Regions from separate parts of the Homo sapiens genome. Here region 2 is linked to region 1. The links come from fine-mapping of genetic effects on gene expression. A gene starts in region 1. The other region holds a variant in brackets. All regions are shown on one strand. Distances are between the middles of the regions.

What was found. PIP is the estimated chance that this variant, and not a neighbour inherited with it, causes the effect. A credible set is the group of variants that fine-mapping cannot tell apart.
Region 2: its variant is the best candidate, but not a certain one, in a credible set for the expression of EHD1 in whole blood (INTERVAL, PIP 0.55).

Annotation. Positions count from the first base shown.
Region 1 is chr11:64,869,796-64,884,936 of GRCh38, forward strand. EHD1 (EH domain containing 1) reads right to left here and starts at 8,826. Exons shown (of 5, transcript NM_006795.4): 1 at 8,266-8,826; 2 at 4,626-4,723. The coding sequence starts at 8,669. It overlaps MIR10392 (microRNA 10392), which reads right to left and starts at 8,814; the gene lies at 8,728-8,814. It also overlaps the pseudogene RPS16P6. RefSeq lists enhancers at 6,963-7,739, 7,403-7,502, 10,825-10,974, 11,145-11,194, 11,255-11,344 and 3 more and silencers at 3,941-4,131, 7,663-7,732, 8,583-8,632, 8,653-9,212.
Region 2 is chr11:64,845,520-64,860,660 of GRCh38, forward strand. EHD1 (EH domain containing 1) reads right to left here. Exons shown (of 5, transcript NM_006795.4): 3 at 14,405-14,817; 4 at 9,803-9,967; 5 at 6,123-9,338. The coding sequence ends at 8,814. Among named protein-coding and RNA genes, the nearest start is that of CDC42BPG, 8.4 kb to the left of the region's middle. RefSeq lists silencers at 1,630-1,719, 8,156-8,215 and enhancers at 6,146-6,195, 6,366-6,495, 7,813-8,811, 8,812-9,810, 9,058-10,257 and 3 more. The variant C/T (reference allele first, on the strand shown) is at 9,511.

The sequences.
Region 1 (15,141 bases):
CGGAGCACCCTGGTGAAACCTCAGCCTGGGGGTGCTGCTGGCAGCGGCATCTCCATCTCAGGAGGTGTCGGCAGGAAGTGGGGGCGGCCCACGGCGCAGGCCTGCCTCTGGGCCGGAGGGCTCAGGACACACAGGTGGGAGTGTGGGCAGGGAGGCCCCATCCAACCACTAAGGATCAGGACAGCTCCCAGGCTTAGAGGGAGCCTGCAGACCACCAGAGGGCAAACGAGAGCCCAGGCCACCAGGCTCCCTGGAGACCCCAAGGGATCATTTATGGCTGGGAACAGGGAACACAATACCAGCACTGCTGTTCAAAGCCCCAGACCTCAGGTCCATTTCAGGACTGGAGTCTAACCTTGGGTGGGAGAGAAACAGAGGGTGGCCTCTGTGTGTCTCAGGAGGGACACACATTACTGTGTGTCCACAGTAATGACCCAACAGGGGCAAAGGTCTGTCTGACCCAAGCTCCCGGCACTCCTTCGCCCACAGCCTTCATGCCAAGGCACCCTTCTCAGCTCCGCCGCAGTAGGAGCACAGCCCCTACCTGGGTTCAAATCCTAGCGCCGACACTTGCTGGCCTGCCTGTCATCTTAGGCCAATTACTTAACTTTCCTAAGCCTCTGCTTCCTCCTCTGAAAGGCAGGAGCTTCCTCCTAGATGCAGCTGCTGTGATAACTCAATGGAACTCACTGATGTGGCAGTGGCCAGCAGAAAGTCAGACACAAAGCTGGCCAGGTCTCTGATCTGCTACTGCAAGTAGAAACACTACCCTGCTGATGCTGATACAGCTTTCATGGGGAGATTGAGACACAAAAACTCCCGCTTAGTTCACAGTTGCCTAGTGACCATGGTGGGGAACGAACGAACTGGCCGGGCTGCCCACAGAGGCCCCGCCGGGGGATGACTCGGCATGAGGCACTGCCGGGACCACGCAACTGGTCGGCAGCCCCTGGAGCCAAGGGCACCACCCCTGCCGGACCCAGCTGCCCTTTGGAATGCCCTTATCAGTCACACAGGCAGCACTCAAGAATGAACGCAGCCCCCAGAGGCCACCTTTCTCTGCTGACACAGGAGAACGGTATCTTTAAAGTCACTCAGATTAGCACACAGGCAAAGGCAGCCCAAGAGACCCCAACCCGGCCCCCTTCTCGTCCCTGAGGCAGTCCTCAGGGGTCCCTGACAGAGCCTGGCTGCATCCTGACTGCTTTGGGCCTGCACCAGCCCACCTTATCTTTTCAGACCGTGTTTCCTGCACACATTAGGACCATGGGGAAAGGGGAAAAAAAGTCAGGAGGGGCCAGGCGGGGCCAGACGGGGTGGGAAATGGAAGTAAATGCAATTAGCAACCCCAATGTCCATCCACGGCCTCCACAAGGACATGTTTCCAGGGAACGGGCTGGCAGGCCAGGGGAGGCGTGTTGTGCTGGGGCCCTGGTGCGTGCTCTGCCGGCCCCATCTTTCCGAGAGGGAAACACCTGCTTTCCACGCCACCAGCAAAGGCAGTAGCAGGTGGCCAGCCCTGCCGGGAACGCACTGCTCCACTCCGACCTCCTCCGCTGGACAGGCCACACGGGCCTTTCCATGACTGACGGGCGGGGCCTCCAGGAAACAGAAATCCACTCCTCCTGTGTACACCTAGCGGGGCTCATCCTGGAGTTTACACCCAGCACCTCCAAGAGGTACTGAGCGATGGTCTTTCTCCTGACAATAAAACACCATCATTCAAACCCTAACCAGGTAACTTTTAGTAAAACACATCTAAACCAAGGCCTCTAGGGCTATGGAGGAAAAGAAATGGTCTAGTAAAATCGGTTTGATCTTCTGCTACTTCACAGCAGGAAACCCCTCCTCCAATCAGCGTGATGTGCTTCTCTTTCAGCCACCGGCTCCTTCCTGCCCATAATGGGTAGAGATGACCTTCTGTGGATATAGGGGAGCCTGGCCTCTCAGGGATGCAGAGGGGCCACACTTTGCACCTGGAGGGGAGAGGGAGGCCACACAGGCAGAGCAGGGCAGCACACTGACAGCAGCCTCATGTCCTGCTGGCTTGTTCCTCCAACCTGTTGTCTGCACAGGCAACTCCAGGGCAGGGACCACAAGGCAACACCTACGTCCACCCCTTGCTCCCAATCAAAACGCCATGCTGTGTCTGCAGATCCACTGATATGGAGCATACACTTTGGTGCTTGTCCCAGAGACAGCCAGTGTAGACACCTCTGCCTGCCTCTTTCCTACCAGGGAAAGGAAGCAGAGGGAGTGGGAGGTGGGGAGGGAGCATCTCAGAGGGCAGGGGCCAAGGCAAGCAACACAAGACATACAACCCCAGCCGAGCATGATGGCCCGCGCCTGTGGGCCCAGCTACTCGGGAGACTAAGGTGGAAGGATCACTTGAGCCCAGGAGTTCAAGGCTGTGATGATGCTTTGAGAGGCCGAAGCGGGCAGATCACCTGAGGTCAGGAGTTCAAGACCAGCCTGGCCAACATGGCGAAACCCCATATCTACTAAAAATATAAAAATTAGCCAGGCGTGGTGGCATGCACCTGTAATCCCAGCTACTCAGGAGGCTAAGGTGGGAGGATCGCTTGAACCAGGGAGGAGGAGGTTGTAGTGAACCGAGATCATGCCACTGCACTCCAGCCTGGGCGATAGAGCGACACTCTGTCTCAAAAAAATAAAAGAGTAACTTAATCAGATTTTCTGACCTTGCTTTGGCAAATGACAGGGCTTTTGCTTATCCGGCATTTACTAAAACTAGGTTGGAACAACAATAGCAGTAAGAAATAAAAATACTAGCCCTCGCTTTTTTTTTTTTTTAAAGGGGTCTCCAAATCTACTCCCTTAACTCCTAGGTGCATCACTGTCACCAGGGGTGGGAGAATCTAACAGCTTAACTGGCAGCTCTGAAACCAGATGAGGGCCAGTGATTTCAGTACGCTCTGATGCAGTCCCACACGGGCAAGGCCCGCAAGGCTGGAAGGAAAGAGAAGCAAGGTTTCTCAGCTCCAAGAACAGAGTCCCCATGCCCTCACAGCCCTAGCAGAGAGACATGTGCACCCCAAATCCTAGCTGCCGGCTTTGACTGCAAGGCTCACCCAGCAAAGGCCAGTCCAGAGGGTAAGGGACACGGGAAGGATCTGCAAGTTAATCATCAACAAACTTGCTCACTTGTCCTCAACCCCTCTTTGAGTTTGATCTTATTTCATTTTCACATTTGGAGCTGTAGACTCCACTCCTCACCTGCCAGGTACCAGCCTACCCTCAAGCTCCTCCCAGAAAGCATCAGGCCCCAAAGCGCCCCACCCGTCTGTGAAAAAGGGGCAGTGACAGATGGAGGACCCAGTTCAGGCTCATCCTGAACCAGATCTTCAAAAGAGCTTGGCAGAATCTAGGCAGGAGTTTACACAATTGGAATGGGCACGGTGCACTACTGCATAGCAAGAAGGCCTCAGCCAGGGAGGCTGCTGTCAACCTCTAAGCAAATGTAAGCAAATTTCCACCAGCCCGTTTCATGAATTTCTACCAGCTTCTCCTTTTGCTTGGCTCTCTCTCAGTCCTGCTGGACGTGTGAGGAATGTATATGGCTTTGGGGGGCAAAGGCTGTTAAACACAGACTAAAGCTAATAAGCTCTGGGGACCAGGGGCTTGTTCAGAGTCAGCAATGCTTCCTGCACCCTCACAGCATGGCCCGATTCTGATCCTGTTGTTTCCAGCATGCCCCAGGGGTTCAAAAGCATGACAGCCACATAAGATTGGCTGTGGTCTCACCATGGCTGCTCCCATTGCCTAGGCCCAGGGAGCCAAGAAAGAAAGCAGCTCCCGCCCTCTCAGTGCACAGAGCACTGTGGAGATGGGAGGCTGATGTAAAATGGGTTCTTACTCGGACACTTTTTTTTTTTTTTCTGAGACGGAGTCTCGCTGTCGCCCAGCCTGCAGTGCAGTGGCGCGATCTCGGCTCACTGCAAGCTCTACCTCCTGGGTTCACGCTATTCTCCTGCCTCAGCCTCCCGAGTAGCTGGGACTACAGGCGCCCACCAACACGCCCAGCTAATTTTTTCTATTTTTTAGTAGAGATGGGGTTTCACTGTGTTAGCCAGGATGGTCTCAATCTCCTGACCTCGTGATCCGCCCACCTCGGCCTCCCAAAGTGCTGGGATTACAAGTGTGAGCCACCGTGCCCGGCCACATTTTTTTTTTTAGAAAGGCTGAGACTGGAAGAAATCTCGAGGGCAGCCAGGTGTGGCGGCTCACGCCTGTAATCCCAGCACTTTGGGAGGCCAAGGCGGGCAGATCATGAGGTCAGGAGTTCGAGACCAGCCTGGCCAATATAGTGAAACCCCATCTCTACGAAAAATACAAAAATTAGCCGGGCGTGGTGGCACATGCCCGTAGTCCCAGCTACTCAGGAGGCTGAGGCAGGAGAATCGCTTGAACCCAGGAGGCAGAGGTTGCAGTGAGCTGAGATCGCGCCACTGCACTCCAGCCTGGGTGACAGAGTAAGACTCCGTCAAAAAAAAAAAAAAAAAAAAGGAGAAATCTCAAGGGCAGCATCTGAACCAAGTTGCAGATCTTAGAGAGAAGGATGTGTGACAACACCAGCAGCCCGAGCTGTGGTCACAGCTGTTTACCTCTGCTGATCCGCTGCTTCTCTCCAGACAGGATCCCGGGGGTGTCGATGATGCTGATGCTGTCCAGGACGGGGTTGGGCAGCTGGGCACACATGAACCTACATGAGAGCAAGAGCCAGAAGAGAGGCGTCAAGACACAGTCATCACTGCTCCGGACACAACAAAGGGCTCTCTGTACTCCTTCGCTCCATCTCTGGCTTCCTCTCCAGCAGCGGGGAACTGACAGGTGGTTTTCTATCGTCTTAGTTTCCCGGGGTGGCCGGCAAATCGTATGGACTTTCTCAACTGGGAATGCAACCAGCAGGCTCAAACTGACCCAAATCAGCACTTCCTCACACACTTTTCCCCTAGAGTTTGAGAGGTCAACTTTCAAGCTGCTGACTTGTTAGTGAAAACTGTGCAAGCCTAGGTCACCATTCAGTTCGGAGGGGAAGCAGAAGGTCACGCTGGGGCGCTGAAATCCCATCTCAGAATCCTCCAGCACTTGGCTAAATCTCCACACTGAAGAGAGCTGGCCGCTTCCTACTGCTGCTAGGGCCAGCCCTGCCCTTTCAACCAGCCGCTTGGGTGAGGGAATTGAAATGGACGGCTGGCAAAAGCTGGGGACCACACAGGCTGGTAGACGGTGGGACGGAGAAGCACAGACGCGCCATTCTCTGAAAGTCCGAGCAGGCTGAGGAAGAACAAAGCCGTGGAGAGGCTGGCGACTTGCGGGCCAGGGCTCAGCCACGCATATCTGAGTTTCACACTAAGCTTAGAACAGCCCAGAAAGGCAAGGGGCAGTCTCAGTTGAGAGCAGGGATCCTTCACTGGACGCAGAAAAAGCTCCTTTGAAAAGTTCTCTGAAAGGCCAGGCGTGGTGGCTCACGCCTGTAATCCTAGTACTTTGGGAGGCCAAGGCAGGCAGATCACTTGAGGTCAGGAGTTCACGACCAGCCTGGCCAACATGGTGAAACTCCATCTCTACCCAAAATAGAAAAATTAGCTGGGCATGGTGGCACGCGCCTGTAGTCCCAGCTACTCGGCAGGCTGAGGCAGGAGAATTGCTCGAACCCAGGAGGTGGAGCTTGCAGTGAGCCGAAATTGTGCGCCACTGCACTCCAGCCTGTGCAACAGAGCGAGACTCTGTCTCAAAAAAACAAACAAAAAACTTCTCTGAAAAAGGTAGTGAGAGCAAAGAAAAGACTGACCCATTATCTGTAGGACACAGACTTGAAGCTGCCTTTCCAACAGACGGGAGGACTCTGAGCCGATCAGCTTCTCCCTTTGGCCCCATCCCCCAGTGACCAGGGGCCCACGGGCAGAGGGCAGCTGGCCAGGGCAAGGGGTGCTCTGCAAGGCAGTGGAGCAAGACCAGCTGACCTGCAGGGCGAGCAAAACGTGGGCCTCACTCTCGCCAGTGCCAGTAGCAATGCATGAAGGCCAGTCCTGGCCTTCCTGCTGGGGACAGGAGGCGCTGGAGAGATGATTACAGAATAGAAGGATGGGAAGCAGAATTGGCTCTGGGAAATCACATACATAAAAATGCCTCATAAATGAGCCCAGAAAGTGAGTTAATATCTATAGGACCCAGAAACCAGTTGCTCTGCAGAGCCCAGGGTATATGGCAGAAAACAAGAAAGGGGAAGCAGCAAAGATGCCTCCGATTCCATCTCACCAAGAACGCACAGGTTTCATCTCGCACAAGTGGCAGTCCCAGTTATGCAATAAGTTTTTGCAAGACACTCTTAAGACACCCTGACTGCACCTTGCCTTGGTCTGCTCCAGCTGATTTTATTCTTAGAGCAGCCACATAGGGGGAGAAGGCCGGCAAGTCAAGTTCACGACTCAATGAGTCTCTTCAAGACTCAGCTGGGAGAGGCTGTATCAGCCAGAGAAAAGCCTCCTTTGTTGCACCCTCCTCGCCGGGCTCACTCCCCACACTACACATCCTGGCACAGCTCTGGGCCTCAGCGTGGGCTGATAGGGCCCTTTCGGCAGGGCCATCAGTGATCAGGGATCCTCTGGAGATGAGGTGGCAGCAAGAAGGAAATAAACGTGTGCCACCTCTCAGATCCTGTGGCACCAATGTCATCAAAGCACCGGTCTCGGACAAAGCAATCTCGAATTGCTCTTTTTCGGGTAGAAGCAGCAGAAAGCAGTAACTGGCTGTGCAAAAGCCAGGCAGTCAGTGCTGGCTGACCTAATGGGTGACTTCCACACATCAGCCAGACCCTCTGAACCTCGGTTTCCTGAACCAGTCAGGTGGGGGCTGCCAAGATGATGTCTAAGATCCTTCCAGCTCTGAAACTCTAGGCTTCCAAATTCAGAAAACTGGTCCTGTGCCATGTCTCTCCTTTCAAAAAAGGTGTGCCCTCACAAGGAAAGTGAAGAGGACTCCGCCTCTTCAGGACCCTTAGCCCAAAGGGCTGCACTCAACCTGGCCTTGACAGACAAACATCAACAGCCGTAAAACAGGAGGGCGGGCTGAAATGCCTGGAAGTGAACAGACCCTGCTGAAGGTCAGCTCTGTGCCTGGAGTAGGCCTGGCCACCAGCTTGGCTCTAGGGCAAGCTGCCCTGCACAGCTGGATGGCGTCTGGAAAGGAATGTGACCGTGCAGGGCGGGGACCTGGAAGGCAGGATTCAAAGATTCCTTCAGAGGCTCTTCGCTGGTGCAGAATTATGAAAGGCATGTGGAGTCCGTGAACGTGGGGTGGCAGGGAGGACAGGGTCTGTGAAGTACTTTGGTATGTCGCCTGGGGGTTGGGACGGGCATGTCTCGAGTTTCTCTGGAGAAAAGTGAGCTTGGGCATTGCACTCCTTGAGGGGCGGGAGCACTGTGTTTCATTCACAGCACTGAGACAGGCAGAGTCCTGGAGCTCACTCTCCTCGCGTGCAGAGGCCACTTAACTGGAAAAGTGAGGTCCAAGTGGGTGAAGGAACCTCAGATTCTGTCCCTCAGTGCACAGAAGGGCTTAGGGCCAGAATCTCATTGCAGGGCTCCCACTGCCACCACCTCATCCTGCTTCCTGAAACCCCTCAGGGCAGCACTGACCTCTTGAGAGCTGCCATTGGGAGAAGTGTTCGAACCTCAACTGTCCCCTGCCTCCAAGGGGCTGCCCCAAAGTCAGCAAGCCACAGCCGATCCTCCTCCTCCCTCCTACACAAAACCACCGTCCCAGGGGAGGCAGAGCAGACCCACACCGCACCAGAGAAGGGAATGGCTAAAAGTTTCATTGTGTTTTGCTATTGACACTTAAGAAGACAGGGAGGGGAGGGTTGATTTCCGTGAATTAGGTGCATCCAGCCTGCGGGACGGAGGTGGAGACCAAGAAAAGGAGCGCAGGAATGGCTCAGCTTCCTACTGCGGCCCTGCTGCTGAGGGGAGTGGGGCTGGGATCTGCAGGAGGGCTTGGTGGTTACCCTGGAAGATTCTGGGGAGGACAGAAGCTGGGGGAGCCGACAACGCCCACTCTTAGACCCCCAGTGGGTTTACTCTGGGAAGGGGCAGGGCCCTTGGACCAGGGAGTGGTCACTGAGGGTCTCACTGGGGCCTCGGAGACAAAGGACGGCGGGGCGACAGCCACGGGAGGGTCAGGCTCCGAGTGAGGGGTGTGCCCCGGACGCGCCCCCCGCCCCCTGGAGTGATGGGTGGGTACCTGTTGAGGAAAGCGTTGCCAAACGCGTTGAGCTTGCGGAAGGGGCGCCGCGGGTCCACCACGAGCGCGTTGCCCGGCACCACGCCCTCAGTGGGGCCGTGCATGACGGCGATGAAGGAGTCGGTGGTGGGCTCGGGCCCGATGCGCATCCCCGGGAAGTCCTGCTCGATCAGGTGTCGGATGAAGGTGGTCTTGCCCGTGCTGTACTGCCCCACGAGGAGCACCATAGGCTTGTTGTCGAAGTCAGCGTCCTCCAGCGCGGGCGAGTGGAACTCGTGGAAGCGGTAGTGCTCCTCCAGGGGTAGCAGCTTCTGCGCGTACAGCTGCCGCAGCCCCTCAGCCACCGTCTGGAAGAGCTCCGGCTCCTTCTTGCGGCGGGCATCCTTGCTGACCCAGCTGAACATACTGCCGGACACGGGGCTGGCTGCTGCGGGGCAGAGCGGCGGCTGAGAGCGGGGCGAGGGTGCGGAGCCGAGGCGGGGCCGGCCGGGGCAGGGAATCGGGAGCGACCCACACTGCGCAGGCGCACAGCCCAGCCCGTCGAAGCGCCCTCTGCCGAATGCTGCGCACCCCTCGCGGAGCGGCCTTTATAGGGTCGGTCCCTCAGTGGCGGCTAGCGCCGCCGCGGCGGGGGCAGGGCGGAATTGGGGGCGGTAGGGAGGAGCCCCTCCCAGCCCCGCCCCTCCGACTGGTGCCACGTCTTCCCCTACCCCGCCCCCATTGGCTGATTCCAAATCTCGCGAGGCTGTGGTCCGGGTGCCGTGGCAACCGCACCTGTTTCGCCCCGCCCCTCGTAGGGAGGCTCGCGAAAGTGCTGCGGTTAGGAAGGCGAGGAGCGGGCGTTCGGCGGAGACGGCCTCTGGGCCGCGCGCCTTCCGGCACCGTGGCCCCCCCACACCCCCGCGGGATGGCTCCACGAGACACCCAGTCAGGCACCCTGGTTCCCTGACTACGCGCCGCGCCCGCCGTTCGCCACGTGCGGTCCTCCAGCTGGCTCGGAATCCCCGGAAGCATCGGAGTACCCCCAGGCGGCGGCACCTCCTCCTCTCAGCCCAGCTTCCCAGACACACACTGTCTTTGTCCCCTCATCTTTTATCTGCTTTGGGAGAGGGAGAGACAGGAAAGTGGTAGCAGAGCAAGCTGAGGGAGTAGAGAATCCGGGGCGGGCTGGTGACTGGGGAAAGAAAAATGGGCAGCGAGAGGCCTGACCTCCCCTCAGGCCGACGGGGTGGGAATGGGAGAGGGACGCAAGCGAGGGAGGACATGGGTGACACCGGACTCGCGCGGGAGAAGAGAAGGCTTCCCCACAAAGGCTATAGCTGGGGCAAGGCAGGGAGGGCATGAGGAGGAAGTTGAGGCTCTCTGGCCACTTGCGTATTGGGAAGTGAAATCGGAAATTCCCTATGTGGGGAAGAGGGGAAGTGTGGGGGCAACAATGAAATCTTGTGGGAATTTAGGGGGAAGTTTAAAAACCCAAATACTTCCACTTTCCTCTCGGGGTCACCACCATTTACCATCATTTACTGGGATCTGTGCCCTACCTCCCCTTACCAGTTCCTGGCTGTTCCATGGGGCTCACTCCCCCGCCATCCTCCCCGGCCACACACAGACCCCTTTGGCTGTCCAGGCTGGTGAGAATCTTCAGTGGGTGATGTCAGAGCTTTGGGGACTGATTGTTATGTAACCAGTATCAAGACACCAACCTGTGGTAGCAGGACCCTGGGGGCTCTTAAAGAGATCTGAATTGAACCTGCGACTTTGAAAGCCTCAGGTCCAACTTCCTCGCTTCTGGGAGATGTGGAAGCCTGGAGGGCTAGGGGCCTGTATCAGGGGATAACTTGGGCTGGTAGGCTAAGAGGAAGAGGCAGGAACTCAAATCTGAGAACGGGGGATATCTCAGGGGAACTGAGTGGTGGAATCTAGAGAGGACACGATGGGAGGTTTGTTCGCCTACCGCTTGTAAGATCCCTTCCGAGGGAATAGATAGTTCCCTTGCCCTCCCCTCTTGCTCCCTAACCATTGGAGAGCGGATAAGTAATTCCAACCCTGCCTGCAATCTTACGCCCCTTAGTGCTTTGATTTGATTCTTTTCATCATAGTAAAGCACACAAGCTACTGCCCCCCCCCTTTTTTTTTTTTTTTTTTTTTTTTGGTGTTATTCTCAAAAGAAGATACTGAGGCTCCTAGGCAGAGCTGTCACCAGAGGCTGCATGCCAATTGGTGACGAGGAGCCTCCGGCGGGCCTAGTCCAGACTTCCCGGGTCAGCCTTAGAAGCCACAGTGTTTGCCTCCTACTCAGCACTGTTAGGGATCCACCCCGGAGATGCAGTTTCTGGGTTGATCTAGGGAAGGGCCCAGGGCTGAGGATCCTGAATGAAGTAGTTGTTCAGTCGTCTCAATGAGGCTGCTCCAAACTGGCGCCCCGGCAGCATTCTCATTGACGCGCCATGGTTTTCAAATCTCCCCAGAGCCCTGTGTGCTGGGAAAACCCAGCCCTAGAAAACTGAAAACAACAAAATGTTCCTGGGTTATTTATAAACAAAACCCAGACCCTGTCGTTATGTATGGCCACTTGACTTTCTCCAAAGATCTTAAAGGACTGAAAGAAGGGATCTCTGTCACCCTGGTGAGGCCCACGTGACCAGCAATTAGTTTCCCCCAATTTCATGGAGTTGGCACCCAGCTTCCAGGCAGCTTCCTTATCTTGTCATGCCCCACACCGAAAATGTCCTAATTTTTTTTTCTTTTGTGTTTTCTGAGTAGGGCAGTTTGTTTGGTGGGAAAGTTGTATAAAATGTGAATGCACCCTTTCACTTTTGGTTTCTCCGCTGTTTCACTTTCTGCCTGTCTGCCTGAGCCCATGGCAGATTGATGGAGGGTTCAAGTATTTTTCTTTTATCTCAGAAACTGTGCCATCCCCCACTCCCAGTGTTTTATTCTTCAGTTAATAAATCCATTCCCTGCAAACCCAGGGCCTTGAGGTACCCCCTAGCTCTCCTCAGAAACGCCCTCATCCAGCAGAAAGGGGCCTCACCTCCCCTCTAAGTGGTCTGCTTGGTCCTGTCATGGCCTGATCTAGGAAAACATCTACAAGGTCCCTAGAGACAACTTAAAAAAAAAAGGCCAGGTGCAGTAGCTCATGTCTGTAATCCCAGCACTTTGGGAGGCCGATGCAAGCAGATCACCTGAGATCAAGACCACCCTGGCCAATATCACAAAACCCCGTCTCTACTAAAAATACAAAAATTAGCCAGGTATGGTGGCGTGTGCCTGTAATCCCAGCTACTGAGGAGGCTGAGGCAGGAGAATCGCTTGAACCCGTGAGGTGGAGGTTGCAGTGAGCCAAGATCGCACCACTGCATTCTAACCTGGGCAACAGAAGGAGACTCCATCTCAAAAAAAAAAAAAAAAAGAGAGGTGCCTTTTCCGCTTGCGGTGCCGTGCAGTGAGGAGCTCTTATCTGTGCTCTTGGCTATGCCATCCAAGGGCCAGCTGCAGTCCGTGCAATCCACTGCAAACATGGCAGTGGCCTCATCAAGGTGAATGGATGGCCCCTGGAGATGATGGAGCCGAGCGCTGCAATTCAAGCTGCTGGAACTAGTTCCTAGTTCTGCCTCTGGGCAAGGAGCAATTTGCTGACATGCACACGCATGTTTGTGTGAAGGGTGGTGGTCATGTGACCCAGATTTATGCTATCAACATCAGTCCATCTCCAAAGCCTTAGTGGCCTATTACCGGAAATAAATGGATGAGGCTTCCAAAAGGACCAGAGGCATCCTCATCCAGCATGACTGGACCCTGTCAGTAGCTGACCCCCGTTGCTGCAAATCCAAAAACGTTGGAGGCCCTGGTACCTATGCTTGCTACCAGAAATCGTACCAATAAGCCCATCACAGGGACCAGGATTCACCTATATAATAAACTATGTTTGAGAGTGTTTTTTTTTTTTTGAGACAGAGTCTCACTCTGTGTCACCCAAGCTGGAGTGCAATGGTGCGATCTCAGCTCACTGCAACCTCCACCTCCTGGGTTCAAGTGATTATCCTGCCTTAGCCTCCCAAGTAGGTGGGATTACAGGCGCCTGCCACCATGCCTGGCTAATTTTTTGTATTTTTAGTAGAGACTACTAAAAATACATGTTGGTCAGGCTGGTCTCGAACCCCTGACCTCAAGTAATACACCCACCTCAGCCTCCCAAAATGCTGGGATTACAGGCATGAGCCACCGCACCCAGTCGATATTTTTTTTTTAAGGAGTTTTTCTCCAAATATGGCAGAAAAATCGAGCTGAGAAAAACCAAAACATAGGTTTCTCCCTGGGATGAGGAGTGGTTCATTCTTTCCACTGACAGAGTTTGCATATCAGCACAGATTTTTGTTCTCACAGTCATGAGATTTGGGCAACAAATCAGTTTTCCCGACACAAGGTGAGGAACTGAGGAGGACTGTTCTTTTGAATGCCGGGTCTCCCACACTGGCAAGAAGAGTGTCCTCTCCACACCATGAGGCCTTTCTCTTGCAGCAGCTGTGGCCCTTGGGTGATGGCTCTGGGGAGATTGCTGGGCCCCAGAGGGCTCTGAAGGCATCTGGCAGCCAGAACATGGCCCAATTTGGAGGTGACCGTGTCAGAATCTTAGCTGCTTTCAAATTCCAGTGAGAAAGAGCCTGAGGCCCGGGATGTCCAGTGACTGCTCGAAGTAGCCCAGACTGAATGAGAATCTGGGCCTTCGGAGTCTTTTTTTTTTGAGAGGGAGTCTCCCTCTGTTGCCCAGGCTGGAGTGCAGTGGCGTGATCTTGGCTCACTGCAACCTCCACCTCCCGGGTTCAAGTGATTCTCCTGCCTCAGCCTCCCGAGTAGCTGGGACTACAGGCGTGTACCACCATGCCCGTCGGCTAATTTTTTCTATTTTTAGTAGAGATGGGGTTTCACCATGTTAGCCAGGATGGTCTTGATCTCCTGACCTTGTGATCTGCCTGCCTCGGCCTCCCAGAGTGCTGGAATTACAAGTGTGAGCCACCACGCCTGGCCAGGGCCTTCTGAATCTTAACACTGCCCTTTCCACACTCCAGCCACTTGAAGTTGCAAGGACGGGCAGGTGGAAAAGCAGAGAAAGAGGGTTTCAAGAGCCTCTTCCCCAGATGCAGGCTGAAGTGAATCTCTGCCCTGAAGCTCACCAGCCCTTCCTAGCCCCTTTGCTGCTCTGCAGCCTGGGGGACAGGCTTACACATTTATCAGGATGATGTACACATATAACTGCACAGTGCTTTGCAGAGCTGAGACTTATAGGTCTCTGAGCACTTTCAGTAAAAGCTCTAGTTCACCTGCCAGTTTTCTGTGTGTGTGTCTCAGTCCCTGCAGCTTCTGGCCCTGCCTTGCTGGGGCTGATGAGGCTGGGGCTGCCGCTGAGTGCAGGGTGCAGGGTTTGCCCTAAACTTATTGGAGGGCCCAGGCCTTTGCCTGACTCCACAGGAAATGGCTTATTATTTGGCACATAAGCAATCGCCTTCTGTGGTGACAACATTAGGGGGTCCCTTGTGGGGTGCTGGGGTCCCCCTTGCCCTACACTAATGAAATGGAGAGTGTAACCCCATTGTCCCCCAGCCTCAGCAGCCTGAGAGTACAAGTGAGGTGCATGGTCTTAGCCTCCCTTGTATGAGTGCAGACTGCTGCCGTGCACACGGCCCCTCTGCATTTCCGGGGGCTCTGAAGTGTGTCTCGTGTGTGCAAGAACGAGCCTGCCCAAGTTCTGCTCCAGCTGCCTCTCCCTTGCCTTGGCCTTGCCCTGCTGTGGCCCTGAGCCTCACCATGGGCTCACAGGCTGGGGGGCTGGAGGGTAATTCTGTCCCCAACTCTGTGTCACACTCAGCCACCAGGGCACAGAGCCCAGCCCATCTTCAACAAGCCCAGCTCCTCACTCCCACACCTCAGGAGTCAAACATCGTGCCCAAGGCCACCCTCCTGTCCCCTCTGCTGGGCGAACACCTCCCTCCTCCATCCCCCCAAATTAAAGTCTCTTTGTAGGTCACTTGGGGTGGTACATGGTGGTCCCCCAGCCCGCCTGTCTGCCGACACTCAGTCTCCCTCCCCGTCCTGTGGCCCAGCTGCCACATTCCTCTCACCTGCAGCTTCTTTACTGTGCCCTTAAGTACAGAACATGGTGACGCTCCATCTGCAAGGAGACTGGAGACCAGAACCCTCCCCTGAGGCCCACGTCTGCCCAGGCACCATGCTTGCTCCTAGAGGTACATGTTGGGGTGTCCCCGAGGGCAGGAATATAGTGGGACCCTCTCAGAGGTGGGGTCAGGCCTCCGTCTCCTGCTCACCCAACCTGGTCCCCTGCCCCTTGGCTCCATGTCCTGTCCCAGAAACACCTCTCTTGCCCTTTGGTCATCATTAAGCAGAATTTCAGGATGTCTGCAAGATCCCCCACCCCTGGTGTACATATCCAGTGTAATGCTGGGAATGCGGATCTGGTGACTTACTCCATGACATGCGGTGTTAGATGGTGCAGTCCACTGTACAAAGGGAGATAATCCCAGTGGGCCCCCCAGCTCACTGAGCCCTCTGAAAGCAGAGCTGGCTGGACAGTGGCTTACACCTGTGATCCCAGCACTTTAGGAGACTGAGGGGGTGGGTCACTTGAGCCCAGGAGTTCAAGACTAGCCTGGGTAACATGGCAAAATCCCATCTCTACCCAAAATACAAAATATTAGCTGGGTGTGGTGGCATGCACCTGTAGTCCCGGCTACTCAGGAGGCTGAGGTGGGAGGATCACCTGAGCCAGGGAGGTTGAGGCTGCTTCGAGCCATGATTGTGCTACTGCACTCCAGCCTGGGGGACACCATGTGGAAAGGAATGTGGGTGACCTCTAGGAGC
Region 2 (15,141 bases), 24 kb before region 1:
GGACCAGGCACCATGAGGAGAGATCAAAGGGTGGGACATATTGGTGGCTTCAGACAACACTTTTTTTTTTTTTTTTTTGAGACAGGGTCTCTCTGTCACCCATGCTGGAGTGCAGTGATGCAATCATAACTCACTGCAGCCTTGACCTCTTAGGCTCCTGCCTCAGCCTCTTGAGTAGCTGGGATTACAGGCAGATGCCACCACACCCAGCTGATTTTTTATTTTACTTTTTGGAGTCAAGGGTTATTGTTATGTTGACCAGGCTGGTCTCGAACTCCTGGGCTCAGGTAATCCTCCCACCTTGGCCTCCCGGAGTTCTGGGATTACAGACATGGGCAACTACACCCGGCCTAGACAACACTTCTTTCTCTTTTTTGAGACAGGGTCTCACTCTGTCCCCTAGGCTGGAGTGCAGTGGTGCAATCGTAGCTCACCACAGCCTCAACCTCCTGGGTTCAAGTGATCCTCCCACCTCAGCCTCCCGAATAGCTGAGACTACAGGCTCACACCACTAGGCCAGGCTGATGTTTTGTTTTTTGAGATGGTGTCTCACGCTGTCACCCAGGCCAGAGTGCAGTGGCACGATCTCGGCTCACTGCAACCTCTGCCTCCCAGGTTCAAGAGAGTCTCCTGCCTCAGCCTCCCAAGTAGCTGGGATTATAGGCATGTGCCACCACACCCAGCTAATTTTTGTATTTTTAGTAGAGATAGGGTTTTGCCATGTTGGCCAGGCTGATCTCAAACTCCTGACTTCAGGTGATCCTTCTGCCTCGGCCTCCCAAAGTGCTGGGATTACATGCGTGAGTCACTGGGCCCAGCCATGTTTGTATTTTTTATAGAGATGGGGTTTCGCCATGTTGCCTAGGCTGATCTCAAACTCCTGGACTCAAGTGATCTGCCTGCCTCAGCCTCCCAAAGCGCTGGGATTACAGGCTGTAGCCACTGGCCAACACATTATTTCATTAAAAGACCTGTTTAGGGGTTTGCCTCTCCTCTCGTACTGGGACCTCGCTGAGATGGGGGCAGGATCAGGTTGAGGGAGGAGGTGTTCCATGAATGTTTGAAGCAAACAGGGTGTTTCTCCCCACGAAGGGTTTTTCATGTGATTATTTGTTTATTTATTTATTTATTTTAAAGAGACAGGGTTGCACTATATTGCCACGTTGGCCAAGCTGGTCTGACCTCAGGTGATCCGCCCACCTCGGCCTCCCAAAGTGCTGGGATTACAGGCATGAGCCACCATACCCAGCCTTTTTTTGAGACAGGGTCTTGCTCTGTCACCCAGGCTGGAGTGCAGTGATGCAATCTCAGCTCACTGCAGCCTCAACATACTGGGCTCAAGTGATCCTCCCACCTCAGCCTCCTGAGTAGCTGGGACCGCAAGCCTGCACCACCACGCCTGGTTAATTTTTAATTTTTTTTTTAGAGCTGGGGTCTCTCTACATTGCCCGGGGCTGGTCTCAGACTCGCCCTGCCTCCCATGTGATCTCCCCAGAGGCCCGCCCTGTAGCTACGCAGGGCCCATGGGCTGAGAAATGTTTGGGGAAACAGAGTCTGGGTGTATTACCTAAATCAACCAGAATGGGATGGGGAGCCAGGATTCAAACCAAACTCTGGGGATCCCCTTCATTGCCTCTGGTCTCCTGGAAGGGGGAGGGGGCAGGAGTTCAGATCCCTCTCACCTGAGAGATTCTGAGCCCTCCTTATAGGGGCGGGGCAGGGGTGGAGCCCACAGGAGGTAGGAAGGGGCTTGCTCACTGAGGCCACACGGGGGCGCCAGAGACCAGAGGAGGGACAGGCGCTCCAGCCAGCATTAGGGAACCGGAGATAGGGAAGGGCTCCTGGGTGGGAAGATGGGCCTCTCCTCCGCTGCCCCTCGTGGACACCCCTGGTGAGGCCTCTGGGCCCTGCCTCACTCCCTGTGTGACCTCAGGCAAGTCCCTTAACCTCTCTGGTAAGTTCTCAGAAAGGTTCATCCCCAGCCATCTGTCCATCCCCACACAGTATAGCTGAGTGGACACTGAGTCCCAGGGCTGAGGCCAGGGCTGCACGGGGCAGGGCTGGGACTGGCATTCGGCACCTCCCGCCTCTCACACGTGATTCTTTCTGGTCCTTTATTAGTTTTTGTCACATCTGTCTTGTAAGCCTCAATTTCCTTGTCTGTAAAAGGGGGTTGGGTCCGGGCATGGTGGCTCATGCCTGTAAGCCCAGCATTTTGGGAGGCCGAGGTGGGAGGATCACTTGAGCCCAGAAGTTCAAGATCAGCCTGGGTGACATAGTGAGACCTCATCTCTACAAACGAACTTAAAAATTAGCTGAGTGTGGTGGTGAGAGCCTGTAGTTCCAGCTACTCGGGAGGCCAAGGTGGGCGGATCACTTGAGCCCAGGAATTCAAGACCAGCCTGGTCAACATGGCAAAACCCTGTCTCTACTAAAAATACAAAAATTAGCCTGGAATGGTGACACACACCTGCAGTCCCAGCTACTCGGGAGGCTGAGAAAGGAGAATCACTTGAACCTGGGAGGCAGAGCTTGCAGTGAGCTGAGATTGTGCCACTGCACTCCAGCCTAGGTGACAGAATGAGACCATGTCTCCAAAATAAATAAATAAATAAAAATAAAGGGGGAGGGTTGGGCCCCCTGCTCATTCCTTTGCAGCTCCAATGGAAGGAAGTCTGTAAAGGCTCAGTCTCTTTCTGAGCTTATTCCAGCCTTAGCAAGCAGCCAGGCCTCCAGCCCTGACTGCCCGAAGCAGCTCCAGGGCATGGCACCATGTTGGCTCAGCAGATCTGTTTTCTGATCCTGTGGGGCCAGACCACTAGGGCCACAGCAGCCTTGACACGCTCCCCACAGAGCCCTGAGCATGGCACAGCCCAAGGCCCAGCTCACAGGGATGGGTGAGTCTTGACAGGAGACACCCCCGAGAGCCTCAGTCACACCCTGTCCAGGCAGTCAGGCCACCCTCTTTCCTTTCCTTCTCACCAGGGTACCTTCATTCAAATGCCTCCTCCATGGTCGACTACTCCCCAGGTGCAGGAGGGCTCAGCTACCCCCCGCAGCCTCTCACTCATCCCGCAAGCCCCTTGGTACTGAGGGACATCACTAGCTCTCTCACCCAGCTCTGTGGGGAGCACTCATGCTGATAACAGCTTGCAAGTGTAAGGGGCCTCTTGGTAACTTAAAGTGACTTTAGATCTATTATCTTCACAAGGGCCACACTAGGAGAGAGTTATTACCCTCCTTTATAGACTAATGCATGGAAGCTGGGGAGGGAGGTGGTGCCAGCCTTGAGCTCCTTCCTTGAGTGCAGACTCGCCCTGCAGAGGGCAGGTGTGTTGGGGCAGGGAGAGGACCTGAGAACCCAGCATGAGGAAGTGGCAGGGAACCCTGTGTCTGCCCCCAAGGGCATAGCCCTCTGTGGCTGGGAGCCCAGACACAAGGCAGGTTGCCCAGGTCTGTGGCATCCTGGCCACATTGGAGGGCTGCTGAGCCCAGGGTTGGAGCGCCCCCTTCCTCAAAGTCCTGAGAATCAGCCTTCAGGGGAAGGCCTAGGATGAGAGTCTCCAGCCGTGGCCTCGGGAAGCAGCTCCCACCAGATGGTTCTTCAGGGCTGGCAGGAATGGCGGCCGCCCCCTGCCCTTAGCCACTCTGGAAACGTGCACATGGCATAGTGGCCCGCTCCTACCCAGGAGGTCAGGACATGAGAGGCTGGCCTTGGGTCCTGCAGCCCTGCCCGCTGCTGACCAGGCGTGGGGCCTTGGGTAGATCTCTTCCTCACTCTCTGGACGCTGTCTTTTTGTGTATAATGGAGAACTGCACCTGTTCAGGTGTGAGAGACAAATGAGCTTCCCAGTATGGCCACCAATGGCCGTCCCAACCTTTCTCTGAAGGAGCACGGGCGGCAATGTGATTGGAGCCGGGGAGCTCCCTAAGCCCACCCTTGAGCCTCAGATGCCTGGCTCTTATTTGAAGGTGCGTCTGTTGGGATGGCTTTGGGAAGGAGCTGATGCAAATGCTAGGGGTGTGGACCCCCCAGTCCCCCAGCTAGTCCTGGCAGCCCCCTCCCCAACCCCATCTGCCCAGCACCAGGGGCGTGTCCTATGAAAAGTCCAAAGCTCCAAATGGGTGGACATATGGTGGTTTCATCATCCTGGTTTTTCTTCCAAAAACCTTCCCTGCAGTGTTCCAACAAGCCATAGGGGCTCCCACGCTCTGCAGCGGCTGCAGCCCCATGTGGTTTTACAATTATCAGTCCCTCTGGGTGCACAGGAAGCCAGGCCCGAGCCCACTTGGCCACCACCTCACTAGCCTACAGGCGCCACTGAGTCTGGGAGCTGCTTCAGGGAAGGGAGGGGCTGGCCTGTTTTGTTCTGGGTATTGGGTGAGGTGCCCTGCTCCCTGCACCCCACCCGACTAACCTCCTTGGGGTGCTTGGCAAAGGCCGCTCAAGGTGGGTGTCCTCGGGCTCTGCCTCTGTGGGCCACATCTGTTCCTGAATTAAGGCTTGAGGAAATGGCCTCAGTGGGGGAAGAGATCTGGCTAGAGTGGCAGAGCTGGGAGTTGAACTCAGGGCGGTCTCCCCAAGGCTGCCCTCCACGTGCTGCCAGACCTGGTGCGCTTTTAACACAGGAGTGGTGGCCGGATGTTCTCACCTCCCAACTCTCACCACCTTGCTGGCCGTGGCCGGGCAAGTCCTATGACTAGCCCATTTGATTTATTTTATGTATTTATTTTTGAGACGTAGTCTTGCTCTGACGCCCAGGCTGCAGTGCGATGGTGCGATCTTGGCTCACTGCAAACTCTGCCTCCTGGGTTCAAGCGATTCTTGTGCCTTGGCCTCCCAAGTAGCTGGCATTATAGGCGAGAGCCAGCACATCTGGCTAATTTTTGTATTTTTAGTAGAGACAGGGTTTCACCGTATTGGCCAGGCTGGTCTCAAACTCCTGACCTTATGTGATCCACTCTCCTCGGCCTCTCAAATTGCTGAGATTACAGATGTGAGCCACCGTACCCGGCCATTATTTATTTTTTACTGGTCTATTCTTCTAGAACACCCATTTGAGATAAGAACAGGGCACTGACTGGATTTGTGGTTAACTTCTTTTCTAAGGAGAAGAAATGTTTATTTAAAAAAAATTTTTTTTAAATAGAGACAGTGTCTCACTGTGTTGCCCAGGCTGGAGTACAGTGATGCCATCATAGCTCACTGCAGCCTCAAACTCCCAGGCTCAAGTGAACCTTCCACCTCAGCCTCTCAAGTAGCTGGGACTACCCACAGACACCCATCACCACTCTTGGCTAATTTTTGTTTTGGTAGAGATGGTGTGGGGGCGGGGGGGGGGGCGGGTCTCACTATGTTGCCCAGGCTGGTCTTGAACTCCCGGCCTCACACGACCCCACCTCACCCCCAACCTTGGTCTCCCAAAGTGCTGGGATTATAGGTGTGAACCAAACCCAGCCAGAAATGTTTATTCTGAATGAGATCTTACAAGGAACTGCAACATAGAAAACAGCTGTGCATGGCCAGAGGCAGTGGGCGGGCCCTTTGCCTCTTGGGTCCTGGGCTGTGAGGTGCTGCGTGGGCGACAGATTGCCCTGAAGGCCTCAGTCCACGGGCTCTGGTAGCTGGGTGGCAATGCCCCTCCTTTGCCCCAGGCCAGCCTCTGAAGAGGAGGCTTCTTCCCCAGGGTCATGGCCAGCTATGGATCTAGGGAGGAGGCGAGGGCTGGGACTAGCCCTCTAGGTGGGCGGCCACATCTCTGACCACATCCTCTGGTCCTCCCTGAACCCCGGTCGGAGCCCAAAGATGATCCCCAACCTGTAGAACCGAAACCAGGGCTATGAACTCTGGGGCAGACACCTGCCCTCAGCCCCTTTCAAGCCTCAGATCAGCAGGCGCTTCCTGGGGCAGCCCCAGGGGGTTCACAGCCCCTCTGTGGCCACACAGAGCCCTGCAGGTGGAGTGCTCCGGGAAGGAGAGCGGGCGGCCAGGCAGCACTTCCCTTCCTCCTAGTTCAGGGGCACTGCTAAGTTCTGTGCCTTCTCTAATGTGCTCACAGCTTGAACAAAAATGCTCCACCTCCCTTGGGTGACCCCTGCCCCAAGCTTTCAGGACCCCAGGCTGGAGTGACAGCATTTAACCTTTAATGTGGGTCTCTCAGCCCTGAGTACAGCTGCAGTCTAAGGGTGGGGTTGGGGGGATCTACCGTTTTTTCCTCTTAGTGTGTGCTTTGGATTAGTAACCTGATGGAAAGCACGCTGGAGTTGGACGGCCTGGTTTGCATCTGCTTCTACCACCTTTGTTATTTCGGCAGTCCTCAGTCTCGGACTCTCCCTCTGTGAAATGGGGGAACATGAACTTCCTCAGATCGTGACAGCGCAGCTCCACCTGGCACAGGGTGAATGCCCACAGGTGGCAGCTGAGTGACGCAGGGAGGGCCGGCCAGCCCTGCAGCAACTGAAGCATCCACTGGCACCTCAAGTGCTGGTCATAGGACCAGACACCACCACACCAGCTAGGCTCGGAGCACACAACTGGGTCCCTGAAACCCTCAGGAACTTGTTTCTGTCCTGCCTTCTGCCAGAGGGGCTGGAGCAGCCTCTACCCATGGCACCTCAAGTCTGCACCCTTTTATGAAGGGTCACTAATCAGTCACCCTTCCCTCTGCTGGTATAAACAGTCCCCCATCTGTGACATCACCTGGGCCTGACTGGCCCCACCCTTAGTTGCATGTTTGTCACAGGCTATCTGCTTTGTCTTCAGAGGCCCGGCTTCCCTGTACTTAAACCGTCCTTGGGGCTAGCAAGGAGCCAGTCTGGCTCCAAAGCCCAGAAACCCTTGTTTACTTGATGCCACCCAGTGCCGAGGGCCTGCAGGTGCCCACTCATCCGTCTGTGGCTGAGGGGTGCCAGCCTAGGCCTCAGCTATCAACATCCTCCCAACTGTTTCCCCCCTCCCCACCCCAAGTGAACTGCTCAGCTCCCACCTTGCTCAGGGAAGGGGGCATCACCCCAGAAACCCTTTTCCCTACAGGCCTGGCCCTCTTAGTAGGAGGGGGCAGCTACTGCCCAGCAGAGCAGGACTGGGCAGGGTTGGTCACCTTGCCCCGGCTGCCTTGCCACTCTGTCCCTGCTGGCATCACCCCCTCAGACACCAGGGGAGGATGGCCCAGGACTGCTGCCCCTGGAAAAGACAAGGAAGCACCCGAAGCTTTCGCACAGTTCAGACTTTTTAATGCAAGGAGAAAGTCTTCACTTCTCTTCCCACAGGTGTGAACAAGCCACTGCAACTTCAACAGTGACTTCCCGGCAAGGACAGCGCCCGCATCCATCCTCACCTAATACTGTATGGAGTGACGGGCTAAGGAGAACAAGGCCAGTTCCTGCAGACTCCGAGCAGCGCTGGGGAGAAGCTCCCTGAGACCCCCGCGGGAAAGCCTGGTGGGAAGCCCAGCTGTGTGGTACCTGGTGCTCCACCTGCCTTGGTGCCATCACAGCCCGGACAGTGGCCACTGGCCTGCAAACGCGCCCGGGCCCTGGAGGCTGGGCTCAATGGCCCCAGGCAGAGGAGGGGGAGGCGGCCTGAACTGGCCCGGGCCACTGGGCCGCAAGGTTCTGGTTTCTTATTGCTCAACCTGGGGGCCAGGGGCGTTGTAAGGACATCCAAGTGAGCTGCCCTCCTTTGCTAAACAGAGGAGGAAGGAAGGTAGGAAATGAAGGGGGATTACAGAAGGGGCTGGGTTTTCCCCTGGTCCCCGCTGTCTGGACATGAGAGCCTAGCCAGAACCACGGGCTTCCTCTTACCAGCACCAAGCTGTCGTGAGGCCCCGCCACCGCCACCCACCACCACCTCCCACTGTGGAGGGTGCGTCCCAAAGCTCCAGTTAAGTGAGAGGGTAGGGCAGGAGCTGGGATGACCACCCTTCCTCAGCCAGGAAATGCAACACTGGGGTCCAGGAACGGGGTGCTCCCCGGGTACCCACACCTAATGCCCCCTGGGCAGGGCTGCTCCTTGGCTGGAGGGTGGGAAGGGGAGACAAAAATCACAGCTTTTGAACAGTGGTTGGGAAGTTATTGGGAACTTTGGTCAAGTATGAAAGATATCACTTTACAGAACAGAAACTAGCTTATGTATTTTTCTGGAAGACATTCTCCTACTCCCCTGAACTCCCAAAAAAAGACCAAGGTGGCTGGGCCCTGCTTCTGTGACTGCTGAGCGGGGTTGCGCGTCGGAGCCGGTGGGGCGCGGGAGGAAAGGGCAGGGCCCGCGCACGGGGAGCCTGGGCCCGGGAGGGGAAGGCACAAGAACCCACTTCGCCCGAGAGCACGGGGGAGGCAGAGCCAGGTGAGGAAGGAAGCCACGGTCCCGTGAAGCAACCTCAGCTCAGAAGCACACGGAGGGTGCCTGGTGTTCCTGTCCATGCAGCCTCAGCCTAGCAGCTGCCAAAAGGGCGACCTGGCTCCCCCACGGTCGCAGTCGCTGCACTGTCCAGCTCCAGCCACAGCAAAGGCCGGGGGGCAGAGGCCGTGCACACAGGGCTGGCACACAGGGGAGGCGGCGACAAAGAACGCAGCCTCTAACGTTATATATTAAAATAGCCACAGTTCTTGTGCACACAATTCCATCCTCTCACCCCTGCCTCCCCCGCCAGGCCCAGGAACAGCCTTAAAAGAAAGATGGTGGTTTTCCTTTTCGAGAGGCGAGGAAACATCCGCTCAGTCTTTATGGACCTTGAGAAATGGTGAGGCTTCCCCTCCCCCCGTCTCTGCCTCCCGGCCGGGCGTGCAAATGGCAGGTGCGGGGCCGGGCGCCATCACTCATGTCTGCGCTTGGAGGGCGGCACCAGGTGCGGGGGCAGGTCGGCGGGCAGCTCGTGGCCCTCCAGCTTGACCTTGATGAGGTGGTTGGCCAGCGCGAACTCCTCGTCGTCCAGCAGCCCGTCCTTGTCCACGTCGGCCAGCTTCCAGATCTTCCCTAGCACGGTGTTGGGGAGCTTGGACTTCACCATCTCCTTCTTGGCGTTGGCGCCCGTGATCTTGCCGTTGACAGGGGACAGCGTGTAGAAGATCTCGTCGTAGGTGGGCTTGTCCTTGCCCACCACCCACTCCACGTCGTCGATGCCCTCGCCGGCCCCCTCGCCGTAGCCGTGCCCGAACGGCCCGTTCATGGTGCCGTCAAAGGCGCCGCCCTTGACCACCTGGGAAGGCATCAGGGACTCCTCCTGCCGCACCATCACCATCAGCCGCGCGATGTCGTTGGCCAGCATGTCATCCACCGTGTCCAGCAGCTTGGGCTTCAGCGCCTGGAACTTGCTGAAGTCCTGGGTCTGCAGGAGTTCCTGTGGGCGGGGGAGGAAGGACAAGGGCTGGGAAGGGAGGCCCCTCCCAGACTCCAGGCCAAGTGGTTCCAGTCAGGGCTTCACAAGCATAAAGTGCTGCTCCCCCACACTAGCAGGGGCGACTCGGCAAAACCATCTGGCCCTTGGCTCTCTAACCTGTACACAGGAGGCA[C/T]CTCCAGCTCTTTCCTTGCAGGGCTGCGGCAAGGATTCATGGACAGGGCACCAGAGCGCCTGGCATGGCCCTGCCCTCCCCCCACCACGCAGGGTGAGTCACCACATTCCCCTCTGCAGTGTCACCGCCTGGGTCAACTCTGAGTTGGGTGGGGTGCTGGTGATTAACCCAGCTGCTTCCGTTCAGGGAGGCCCTTCCCCATGGAGATGGGATTCCCTCCAAATCCAGTGCCCTGGGCCTTCCTTCTGCCCTGATGGCCACCAGCCTGCATGGGGCCTCGGGACAGCCGTACCTGCATCTTGCGGAGGCTCGGGAAGTCCCCAGGGGAGATCTGGTGCTCGCGCTCAATCTTCTGGTAGATCTCTCCGAGGTTGTTCACCAGCTCTTTCTTTTTGCTCTCTTTACCAAAGACATTGGGCATCTCTTTCTTGAGGGAGCTGATGATGTAGGCGTGAACCTGTGAGGACGGGGTGAGCATCAGGCGCTCTCTTGGCCCAGGCTGCCCCCGAGAGCAGAGCCTCCAAGGACACTCCAAGGATACTCCAAGGTGCTCGCTCAGGAACAGGGAAGCAGGAGGGATGGGTCAAGCTCAAGGCCGCTACCACCACCGGCTCCCACAGTCCTAGGAGCAGACACAATCTGGCAAGAGCCACAGCTGTCCACTGCCACAGGACAGAGGACAGGACAGGAAAACGCACTTGAAACAGAAGACAACAGCCTTGGCCTTGCACGGATCATTGTGATGATTCAGGAAGAGTAAAACCCAGTCTGTCAACCCAAAGAAGGCAATTTGTCGTGTACCACTGGGCACATCACACACCCTCTGTTCAACCCTCACCACGCATCACACACCCTCCGCTCAACCCTCACCACGCATCACACACCCTCCGCTCAACCCTCACCACGCATCACACACCCTCCGCTCAACCCTCACCACGCATCACACACCCTCCGCTCAACCCTCACCACGCATCACACACCCTCCGCTCAACCCTCACCACACACCCTCCGTTCAACCCTCACCACAGCCCTGCGGGGTGGGATTCTCCCAACCCGGCCCTAAGCAAGGCTGGGAAAGGCTGCCTGGGGTGCTTGGCTCCCACATGGAGGAGCTGGGATTGGAACCCCGGGCTGCTGAAGGTGCCCCACAGCCCATGTTCTTCTGTTTCTCTGCAAGCCCCCTTCCCCCGAGCTGCCCCCTCCCACGCAGCAGAGCAGGGAGCAGGCTTCCTGCAGGGCCCACCAGCCTGCACGTCCAAATCCCTGCTGAGTGCCGATGGAGCCCACAGAACTCCAATGGGCCCGTGCCACGCTCCACTCCATCATCACAGCTCGGATGACGAAGGATTTGAAAAATCCCAAAAAGGCTTCTCCTGGTGGTTGCCAGCTTTATCCAAGCATCAATACCTTGCTTAGGCATGTGCCTGTTCAGGGCGGCACCCCCTTCATTTCCCTGCAGCAAGCTGGGAACCTGGCAGCCCTCGAGAGTAGCCCAGCCCTCAGATCCCTCGGCCTTGCCAAGTCGTGTCCAGCCACAGAGGGCTGCGGCCAGCCAGCCTTGCTGCCCTTCTCCCCGGCTCCAGCCCATCCACCACCCCGCTCAGCCTGAGCCTGTGCCCTGGGTGGGGGCCTGGCTGAGAACTGCCTGAGGGAGGCAGCCCCGTGCCATGTGGGTCTGGATCTAGAGTCTCCCCAGGGACACTGTGGCAGGCAGATCCCAGGCCGGTGGGAGTCATCACAGAGAGCACCACTCACTCCAGGAAAAGGAAGTGGCAGGTGTGAGGCAACACTGGAGGCCACAGGGTTTTCCAGGCGCGGTGACTCAGTGTGCCTGGGGCCTGGCAGTCACACATGGTCTCACAGACGACCAGGCAGGGGCTCATGCCTGCCCCTTGTCCTGTCTGTCCTCAAAGGTGGCTGAGCAAGGGAGCTCTCTCTGCCCTGCAAGGAGAGAAACTCAGCTAGGGCCACACCCACACCCCTCAGCTCAGGACGTCCTTTGTCCTTTGAGGCCAGGGTCAGTCACCTGGGTTTTTGTATGGGTTCCTCTCTCAAAGCTGGCTCCACTCACAGGGAGGCTCCAGAAGGGAGAGATCTAGAAAAACATCCAGCCAGCCGGGCGCGGTGGCTCACGCCTGTAATCCCAGCATTTTGGGAGGCCGAGGCAGGCGGATCACCTAAAGTCAGGAGTTCGAGACCAGCCTGATCAACATGGTGAAACCCCGTCTCTACTAAAATATAAAAATTAGCTGGGTGTGGTGACGGGCGCCTGCAATCCCAGCTACTCAGGAGGCTGAGGCAGGAGAATGGCTTGAGCCTGGGAAGCGGAGGTTGCAGTGAGCCGAGATTGCGCCACTGCACTCCAGCCTAGGTAACAGAGTGAAACTCCATCTCCAAAAAAATCAAAAAATAAAATAATAAAATTAAAAATAAGAAAAACACGCAGCCCTCTGTCCTCCAGAGCCGGCATCTGACCCACGCCCGTGCACACAGCTCACGGAGGTTCAGGCCAGAATGAGAATTCCTCATCTACAGGGTGAGGTGGGGCCCAGGGTACTTGGGGCACAATGGGAGGACAGTGGTGGCAAAGGATGAAGGGTCAGTTCTCACTGCTCAGACCAGGTAGCACCCACATGCCCTCTGACTGGCCTCCAGACAGAGTGGGTACGAGGGCCACTGTGCTCAACGCCTGCAGTCTCCATGCCTCTGAGCAGGCAGGGACATGGGCTCCCCAGGAAGTGCCCATCCTCAGTCCTCAGTTATATTCTGGAGATCAGGGGACTGTGACCCTGGCCACAGGCACATCTGTCACTGAAGCCTTCATGCCCACATGATGTCTACCCTGGTACCCCCTGCATGCCATGAGGTGGGGGCAAGCACCCTGCTCTGTTGAAGAACTGGGGACGTATCACCAAAGGGCCTGGCTTGGCAGGCAGGACAGTTCCCCAGCCACGCTCCGGCCTGGCTGGCCTGGAGATAGGAGCTACGGCAAGGGCCTTTTTTTTTTTTTTTTTTTTTAAATTAAATAGAGACAGGGTCTCACTAGGTTGCTCAGGCTGGTCTCTAACTCCTGGCCTTAAGGGATCCTCCTGCTTTGGCCTCCCAAAGTGCTGGGATTACAGGCGTGAGCCACCATGCCTGGCCAGAGCCTATTTCTTTTCTTTTTTTTTGAGACAGAGTCTTGCTCTGCCACCTGGGATGGAGTGCAGTGGTGTGATCTCAGCTCACTGCAACCTCTCCCTCCTGGGTTCAAGTGATTCTCCTGTCTCAGCCTCCCAAGTAGCTGGGATTACAGGCACGCACCACCACGCCCGGCTAATTTTTGTATTTTTTTTAGTAGAGATGGGGTTTTGCCATGTTGGCCAGGCTGGTCTCGAACTCCTGACCTCAGGTGATGCGCCCACCCACCTTGGCCTCCCAAAGTGCTGGAATTACAGGATGAGCCACCATGCCTGGCTGGAGCCTATTTCTGAAACAACCGAGCCCTGTGCTAAGAGCCTGAAAGAATAGCTAGGTGCCCTGCTGATACAAATGTGGGCTTGGTCACTTCTCAGCTGTTCAGACAATCTGTGTCAAACACTCCTGTCCACGGGGTCAACCCCAACCACAGCCGGGACTGTCACTCATGGTGACTCGTCTAGGCTGGCTCACGATAGGGTGCTATCCAAAGTCAGACACGCCAAGGGCATGTGTTCTGTCATTCTGTGTTGGAAGGGCCCGCTGGTGGCATTAACCTTTGTTTCCTGGCCCCACCCACACCGGCTCTCACTCAAGTACTTGGTCAGCCACTGAGATTCCAAACCCTTTGGCCATTCAGAGGCTGCTGATAGGTGCCACCAGGCCTGGGCTGCCAGGAGACCTAAGGATGGTCTGCAAGGCCTGCTGAACTGACACTGCCTCAGCGTGACCTTGGCTTCCATGCACAGTGCTCCCCGGGCTGCAGGCTGGCACCCTGTCTCCTCACGAGCTGCTTCCTGTCACAGCTTAAGCTTCAGCTCCTGCCAGGCCCCCCCAGCCCTTCTACTCCACTGGGACAGCCCCTAGCGCCAGCTCCCGCAGCAGCCTGTGCTCGCTCCGAGACGACACAAATAACTGATGTTTATTTTTTGTTTGCGTGCTCTGCTTTCCCCATGAAGGCTGAGGAGTGGACAGGGGCTGTGTGTCACTCCCCGCCAGTACCCGGCATCCAGCACTGTGCTGAGTGCACTTCAGGCTCAGTAAACCCCAGAGGGGTAATCCCAGCACTCTGGGAGGCTGAGGTGGGCAGATCACCTGAGATCAGGAGTTTGAGACCAGCCTGGCCAACATGGTGAAACCCTGTCTCTAATAAAAATACAAAAATCAGCTGGGCATAGTGGTGCGTGCCTGTGATCCCAGCTACTCGGGAGGCTGAGGTAGGAGAATCATTTGAACCTGGGAGGTGGAGGTTGCTATGAGCCGAGATCATGCCACTGCACTCCAGCTTGGGCAACAGAGCGAGTCTCCGCTTCAAAAACAAAAACAAAAACAAAAAACCCTAGAGGGAAGCCAACAAGCCTTAGAGCTCTATCCCCCAACACTCCATTTCTGAGGCTGCCTCCTTTGCTTCAGCGGTAACTTCCTGTGTGCTGTTTCTGTGTTGTAAGCACAGTCAAACCCTTCCTGAAAGTAGATGGGGTATAAACCACAAACAGAACAGGTTTAGAGGGAGGCCGGGTAGAGAATCTTAGTTAAGAGCAGGCTGCACGCGGGTGCTGACCAAAGACTGGTTTCTATAGAGGGAAACAGCGCAGTGCAGGTCTGCCTGTGAAGTGAGCTGGGAAGGGTCTCGGGCAATCCTGGGGCCCTGAGTGCCAGTCTCAGAGCCCCATGGCCCTGCCTGGCAATAGGCTGCTCCCCTCACCCCAGGGTCTACCTTGGCCAGCCGTGCCCGCTTGATCAGGTCATTGAGCTTCCTGAGGGCGGCGTTTCGGGGCAGTGACTGGATGTCCTTGAAGAGGTCCTGCTCCTCGGCCTCAAAGAGCTTGCGGTTGTCGGGGATGAGGAGCGGGTGGGACCAGAAGGAGCCGATGTAGACCCTGACCACCTCGGGGGTGTTGATGATCTTGCCCAGGGACCACATGAGGGCCCCGTACACCCGCATCAGCTGCTGCGTCTCGATCTGGTCTGCCTTGTTCAGCACCACGCGGATCTTGTCCTCATGGTTCTTCAGAGCCTTGATCACTTCCGAGAACTCATCGGAGATGTCCAGCTTGTGGGCGTCGAAGAGCAGGATGATGCGGTCCACACGCTCCGCGAACCACTCCAGGACGGCTGCAAAGTCATAGCCTGGGGGGAAGAGAAGGGAGAGCTCAGGGGCGCCAAGGGACCTGCTGCTCTGATGGCTCTCATCTCCAACCTGGCCTGGTATTTCTCAGCCTGAGATAGTTTTTAAAATTCCTATAGGCCGGGCGTGGTGGCTCACGCCTGTAATCCCAACACTTTGGGAGGCCAAGGTGGGAGGATCACGAGGTCATGAGTTTGAGGCCAGCCTGGCCAACATAGTGAAACCCTGTCTCCACTAAAAATACACAAATTAGCCGGGCAGGGTGGCGCGAGCACTCAGGAGGCTGAAGCAGGAGAATCGCTTGAACCCAGCAGGTGGAGGTTGTG